Linked DNA regions of Homo sapiens. The protein of the gene in region 1 purifies or fractionates together with the protein of each later gene. This does not show direct contact. Each region holds a gene or a part of one and is shown in the gene's direction. Other genes may lie near its edges. The genes, in order: HPRT1 and EPB41.

Region 1 (3,826 bases):
TTTCAGATTAGTGATGATGAACCAGGTTATGACCTTGATTTATTTTGCATACCTAATCATTATGCTGAGGATTTGGAAAGGGTGTTTATTCCTCATGGACTAATTATGGACAGGTAAGTAAGATCTTAAAATGAGGTTTTTTACTTTTTCTTGTGTTAATTTCAAACATCAGCAGCTGTTCTGAGTACTTGCTATTTGAACATAAACTAGGCCAACTTATTAAATAACTGATGCTTTCTAAAATCTTCTTTATTAAAAATAAAAGAGGAGGGCCTTACTAATTACTTAGTATCAGTTGTGGTATAGTGGGACTCTGTAGGGACCAGAACAAAGTAAACATTGAAGGGAGATGGAAGAAGGAACTCTAGCCAGAGTCTTGCATTTCTCAGTCCTAAACAGGGTAATGGACTGGGGCTGAATCACATGAAGGCAAGGTCAGATTTTTATTATTATGCACATCTAGCTTGAAAATTTTCTGTTAAGTCAATTACAGTGAAAAACCTTACCTGGTATTGAATGCTTGCATTGTATGTCTGGCTATTCTGTGTTTTTATTTTAAAATTATAATATCAAAATATTTGTGTTATAAAATATTCTAACTATGGAGGCCATAAACAAGAAGACTAAAGTTCTCTCCTTTCAGCCTTCTGTACACATTTCTTCTCAAGCACTGGCTATGCATGTATACTATATGCAAAAGTACATATATACATTTATATTTTAACGTATGAGTATAGTTTTAAATGTTATTGGACACTTTTAATATTAGTGTGTCTAGAGCTATCTAATATATTTTAAAGGTTGCATAGCATTCTGTCTTATGGAGATACCATAACTGATTTAACCAGTCCACTATTGATAGACACTATTTTGTTCTTACCGACTGTACTAGAAGAAACATTCTTTTACATGTTTGGTACTTGTTCAGCTTTATTCAAGTGGAATTTCTGGGTCAAGGGGAAAGAGTTTATTGAATATTTTGGTATTGCCAAATTTTCCTCTAAGAAGTTGAATCATTTTATACTCCTGATGTTATATGAGAGTACCTTTCTCTTCACAATTTGTCTCTTTTTTTTTTTTTTTTGAGACAAGGTCTCTGTTGCCCAGGCTGGGGTGCAGTGCAGCAGAATGATCACAGTTCACTGCAGTCTCAACCTCCTGGGTTCAAGCGATCCTTCCACCTCAGCCTCCTGAGTAGCTGGGACTATAGGTGTGCGCCACCACTCCCAGCTAATATTTTTATTTTGTAGAAACAGGGTTCGCCATGTTACCCAGCCTCCCAAAGTGCTGGGATTACAGGCATGAGCCACTGGCCCAGTTTCTACAGTCTCTCTTAATATTGTATATTATCCAAGAAATTTCATTTAATCAGAACCTGCCAGTCTGATAGGTGAAAATGGTATCTTGTTTTTATTTGCATTTAAAAAAAATTATGATAGTGGTATGCTTGGTTTTTTTGAAGGTATCAAATTTTTTACCTTATGAAACATGAGGGCAAAGGATGTGTTACGTGGAAGATTTAAAAAAAATTTTTAATGCATTTTTTTGAGACAAGGTCTTGCTCTATTGTCCAGGCTGGAGTGCAGTGGCACAATCACAGTTCACTCCAGCCTCAACATCCTGCACTAAAGTGATTTTCCCACCTCACCTCTCAAGTAGCTGGGACTACAGGTACATGCTACCATGCCTGGCTAATTTTTTTTTTTTTGCAGGCATGGGGTCTCACTATATTGCCCAGGTTGGTGTGGAAGTTTAATGACTAAGAGGTGTTTGTTATAAAGTTTAATGTATGAAACTTTCTATTAAATTCCTGATTTTATTTCTGTAGGACTGAACGTCTTGCTCGAGATGTGATGAAGGAGATGGGAGGCCATCACATTGTAGCCCTCTGTGTGCTCAAGGGGGGCTATAAATTCTTTGCTGACCTGCTGGATTACATCAAAGCACTGAATAGAAATAGTGATAGATCCATTCCTATGACTGTAGATTTTATCAGACTGAAGAGCTATTGTGTGAGTATATTTAATATATGATTCTTTTTAGTGGCAACAGTAGGTTTTCTTATATTTTCTTTGAATCTCTGCAAACCATACTTGCTTTCATTTCACTTGGTTACAGTGAGATTTTTCTAACATATTCACTAGTACTTTACATCAAAGCCAATACTGTTTTTTTAAAACTAGTCACCTTGGAGGATATATACTTATTTTACAGGTGTGTGTGGTTTTTTAAATAAACTCCTTTTAGGAATTGCTGTTGGGACTTGGGATACTTTTTTCACTATACATACTGGTGACAGATACCCTCTCTTGAGCTACATCGGTTTGTGGGGAGTCAAAAGTCCTTTGGAGCTAGGTTTGACAAATAAGGTGGGTTAACACTTGTTTCCTAGAAAGCACATGGAGAGCTAGAGTATTGGCGAATTGAAGAAATCCCCCTTTTTTTTTAACACACTTAAGAAAGGGGACTGCAGGTATACTCAAGAGAGTAAGTCGCACCAGAAACCACTTTTGATCCACAGTCTGCCTGTGTCACACAATTGAAATGCATCACAACATTGACACTGTGGATGAAACAAAATCAGTGTGAATTTTAGTAGTGAATTTCATTCATAATTTGATCGTGCAAACGTTTGATTTTTATTACTTTAGACTATTGTTTCTGATTTTATGTTGGGTTGGTATTTCCTGTGAGTTACTGTTTTCCTTTAAAATAGGAATTTTTCATACTCTTCAAAGATTAGAACAAATGTCCAGTTTTTGCTGTTTCATGAATGAGTCCTGTCCATCTTTGTAGAAACTCGCCTTATGTTCACATTTTTATTGAGAATAAGACCACTTATCTACATTTAACTATCAACCTCATCCTCTCCATTAATCATCTATTTTAGTGACCCAAGTTTTTGACCTTTTCCATGTTTACATCAATCCTGTAGGTGATTGGGCAGCCATTTAAGTATTATTATAGACATTTTCACTATCCCATTAAAACCCTTTATGCCCATACATCATAACACTACTTCCTACCCATAAGCTCCTTTTAACTTGTTAAAGTCTTGCTTGAATTAAAGACTTGTTTAAACACAAAATTTAGACTTTTACTCAACAAAAGTGATTGATTGATTGATTGATTGATTGATGGTTTACAGTAGGACTTCATTCTAGTCATTATAGCTGCTGGCAGTATAACTGGCCAGCCTTTAATACATTGCTGCTTAGAGTCAAAGCATGTACTTAGAGTTGGTATGATTTATCTTTTTGGTCTTCTATAGCCTCCTTCCCCATCCCCATCAGTCTTAATCAGTCTTGTTACGTTATGACTAATCTTTGGGGATTTGTGCAGAATGTTATTTTAGATAAGCAAAAACGAGCAAAATAGGGGAGTTTAACTTTAATATTTTCTTTTAAAAAGCATTTCATGTTATAAGATCAATTCTGAGTGGTAGAAATGCTTTGACATTTTATTTCCATTTTCTACTTTTAGTTTTTTTCCTATTTGTTTAAGATCTTAGAGGATTATTAAGCTGAACTCCTCAACTGATAAAAAGCATGACATCTTAAACATAAGCAAAGCATATTTTTAGGTTAATTTTCACATAGAAAACAGTTTATTTTATGTGAAATTCTATGTAGATATACTATTTTTTTGGTATTTATTGATATGTTTATTTTATTTTATTTTATTTTATTTTATTTTATTTTATTTTATTTATTTATTTTTTTTTTTGAGACAGAGTCTCACTCTGTTGCCCAGGCTGGAGTGCAGTGGCATGATCGTAGCTCACTGCAACCTCCACCTCCCGGGTTCAAGCAATTCTTCTGTCTCA
Region 2 (3,826 bases), on another chromosome or scaffold:
TATTTAAAAGAACAAACTATTTTAGGCCTTTTGGAAACTAATATTTATAGTCAAAACCTTGTGGATCAGAGTCGTCTGGATAAAGGTTTATTTGCCTAACCATGTTTCTGTATATGTAATAGGATTTTATTTAAATGGTTCTTTTTTATCCAGAATTTTTTAAAAAGCGTGTTTGCTTTATATTATAAATATATAAATATATATTTATATTACATTTAAGTGTATAATATATATAAATATAGGATTGTACCAGTCTTCATCCAGAGTAGCTTGGATTTTTTGGAAGCCTATGTAAATTTTTAATGTTTGTTTATTCATTCAACAAATATTTATTGAAAACCTACCATGTGTGCCAGGCCCTAGGCTGGATATACCTTGGTAAATAAAAACTGCAATATGGTGAAGAGGTTTAAAATCATGGATTTTGGGGCTGAGTGTGGTGGCTCATGCCTGTAAATCCAGCACTCTGGGAGACTGAGGCAGGAGGATCACTAGAGCCCCGGAGTTCGAGACCAACCTGGGCAACATGGAGAAACACCATCTCTACAAAAAAGTAAAAAACTAGCTAGGCATGGTGGCTCTCCTGTAGTCCCAGCTACTTGGGATGTTGAGGTGGGAGGATCACTTGAGTCTGAGAGGTCGAGGCTGCATTGAGCCATGATTATGTCACTGCACTCCAGCCTGGGTGATAGAGTGAGACTCTTGTCTCAAAAAAAAAAAAAAAAAGCAAAAAAAACAAATCGTGGATTCTGAAGCCAGACTGGTATGTGACTTATTAATTGTATGATCCTAGGCAAGTTACTTAATTTCTCTGGCCTGTTTTACAACCCTGCAGGCCAGGTACTATTATCCTCCCTCTATCAAGTGGGGATATAATAATACTACGTGCCTCGCAGGGTAGTTATGAGGATTGAGTTAGTTCACATAAGTAATTTTCTTAGAATAGTGACTGGCCCATTGTAATTGTTGTATAAATGTTTGGTATTATTATTATTATAAAACAGACATGATTTCTACCCTTGTGGACTTTAATAGAGAAGACAAAAAAGTAGCAAATAAAAATAATTATTTATTGTAATAAGTTATAAAGCCACCAGAGTACTGATATGAAAGACAGTAGAGCGGGCATAGATAGATAGGATAGCCAGTGAAGAGACTTCCTGAGGTTGCAGTGAGAGGGTCATGAAAGATCGGAAGGAGTCTTTTAGATTACTTCCAGTATTTAATGCAGGAGTCAAATAATTAATTTCTTTTTCCTAATTGTCAACCATGCATTCTTTTTTTCTTTTAATTGTTTTCCAGCTGTTACACAAGGAAGTAACATATTCTTTTAAAAGAAAATAATTAGTCGGGTTTAGATAAAAATATGTCGGTAGTTTTGTTGTGTTGAAAGTAAAAGTAAAAATGTATGCCGGCCAGGCACGGTTGCTCACGCCTGTAATCCCAACACTTTGGGAGGCCGAGGCGGGCAGATCATGAGGTCAGGAGATCAAAACCATCCTGGCTAACGTGGTGAAACCCCATCTCTACTAAAAGTACAAAAAAATTAGCTGGGCGTGGTGGCGGGCGCCTGTAGTCCCAGCTATTCAGGAGGCCCAGGCAGGAGAATCGCTTGAACCCTGGAGGCGGAGCTTGGAGTAAGCCGAGATCGCGCCACTGCACTCCAGCCTGGGCTACAGAGTGAGACTCCGTCTCAAAAAAAAATGTATACCAAAAATGTTATCCTACTTATCGGTATTATTTGGGGATAATTTAAGATTGCACCAGGAAACTCTTCCTTCATTGACTCTTCTTTGCATTTAACATGATTAATATTGGGTAGAAAGGTGTTAGCTGGTAGTTAAAATTTTTAGCCTACTACATGTTTGCTTAATGATGTGAAATTGGTCCCAAGCATTTCTCTTAGAATTAAAATTAATTTAAAATTTAGAATATGTAACAAGTCACATCTTATTTTGCAGTTTGTAAGGCTACATTGCTAAAATTGAGGAGCATGGGCAGAGACAATAACGTTTTTGTTAAACTTTAATAATACCGTGTAATGGCTTGGTCAGGAAGAATATATAATGCTGAGAGCAATGGATTGGTATCCTCCGGTTTACCTGAGACCTTCATTTATTGATTTGATGGGATTCTACCTGAGAAGTTTTAATAACAAAGTCTTTAGGGCATTTGGGGGATCATACTATTTTTTATAGAAAAATATTTAATATTAATGTCACCTATATTTGTTTTAGTTCATGCTTTTATTGGTAAGATTATTATAGGTAAAAGCATATACAGCATGTTTTGTGAAATGTGTTTATTACTGACTTGGCGATGTCATGGATATGTAGCCTGCTCAGGAAGAACTCAGAGAAGATCCAGATTTTGAAATTAAGGAAGGAGAAGGACTTGAAGAGTGCTCCAAAATAGAAGTAAAAGAAGAAAGCCCTCAATCAAAAGCAGAAACAGAATTAAAAGCTTCCCAAAAACCAATCAGAAAACACAGGAACATGCACTGCAAGGTTTCTTTGTTGGATGACACAGTTTATGAATGTGTTGTGGAGGTGAGTATGTTTTCATTTCCAACAATCAGAACTCTTACAGGTGGTTTCATCTAGAGTTGCGTAAGTGGTGATTTTGCCCACGATAAGACTCACTGTAGTGATTATTTCTTTTTTCTTTTTTTTTTTTTTTTTGAGACAGAGTTTTGCTCTGTCACCCAGGCTGGAGTGCAGTGGCATGATCTTGGCTCACTGTAGCCCCCAACTCCCATGTTCAAGTGATTCTCCTGTCTCAGCCTCCCGAGTAGCTGGGATTACAGCCATGTGCCACCATGCCAGGCTAATTTTTTGTATTTTTAGTAGAGACAGATTTCACCATATTGGTCAGGCTGGTCTTGAAGTCCGGGCCTCAAGTGATCTGCCCACCTCGGCCTCCCAAATTGCTGGGATTACAGGCATGAGCCACTGCGCCCGGCCTTTAATGATTATTTCTGTAGATGGAAGTATTAATGGTGATTTTCTGGAGGTGGGATTATGGGAAGATGATGAGTAAGTCTTTAAGTCCAGTAAATGCCATTTCTTAAAATTTTCTGTTTTCTGAAAGAATAAGTGATTGAATCAGGATTGAAGAAAAATATCAGAGTTATTCAGTTACTCTTTTTGCTCCTTCAGGACAAGTTGACAATTTTTTTTTTGTTTGTTTGTTTTTTGAGACAGAGTCTCTCTCTGTCGTCCAGGCTGGAGTGCAGTGGTACAATCTCGGCTCACTGCAAGCTCTGCCTCCTGGGTTCACGCCATTCTCCTGCCTCAGCCTCCAGAGTAGCTGGGACTACAGGCACCCGCCACCACGCCTGGCTAGTTTTTTGTGTTTTAAGTAGAGACGGGGTTTCACCGTGTTAGCCAGGCTGGTCTCGATCTCCTGACCTCGTGATCTGCCCGCCTCGGCCTCCCAAAGTGCTGGGTTTACAGGCTTGAGCCACCGCGCCCGGCCAGAGCAAGTTGAAATTTTAAAAAAATCTACTAACTATATATTTTTCAAACTGGAACAGTAGTTGTTTATTATGATATGCTTGATATATAAGCAATTGCAATTGTTACTAGTAACAGCTTTTATTGACAAAGTGTGTAATTCACATATATGTGGAACAAACTATTTTATTTATTTATTTATTTATTTATTTATTTATTTATTTATTTGAGACAGGGTCTTGCTCTGTTGCCCAGGTTGAAGTGCAGTGGCGCAGTGACAGCTCACTGCAGCCTCAACCTCCTGGGCTCAGGTGATCCTCCCACCTCAGCCTCCTGAGTAGCTGGGACTACAGGCACATACCATCACACCT

What was found.
Region 2: the proteins of HPRT1 (region 1) and EPB41 purify together in Homo sapiens (co-immunoprecipitation; one large-scale study listed by IntAct). This does not show direct contact.

The regions. Positions count from the first base shown.
Region 1 is NC_000023.11:134,473,353-134,477,178, forward strand, and holds part of HPRT1 (hypoxanthine-guanine phosphoribosyltransferase), read left to right. Parts: intron 1-6; coding exon 7-113; intron 114-1,828; coding exon 1,829-2,012; intron 2,013-3,826. UniProt on the Homo sapiens protein: Converts guanine to guanosine monophosphate, and hypoxanthine to inosine monophosphate. Transfers the 5-phosphoribosyl group from 5-phosphoribosylpyrophosphate onto the purine.
Region 2 is NC_000001.11:28,990,994-28,994,819, forward strand, and holds part of EPB41 (protein 4.1), read left to right. Parts: intron 1-2,336; coding exon 2,337-2,549; intron 2,550-3,826. UniProt on the Homo sapiens protein: Protein 4.1 is a major structural element of the erythrocyte membrane skeleton. It plays a key role in regulating membrane physical properties of mechanical stability and deformability by stabilizing spectrin-actin interaction. Recruits DLG1 to membranes.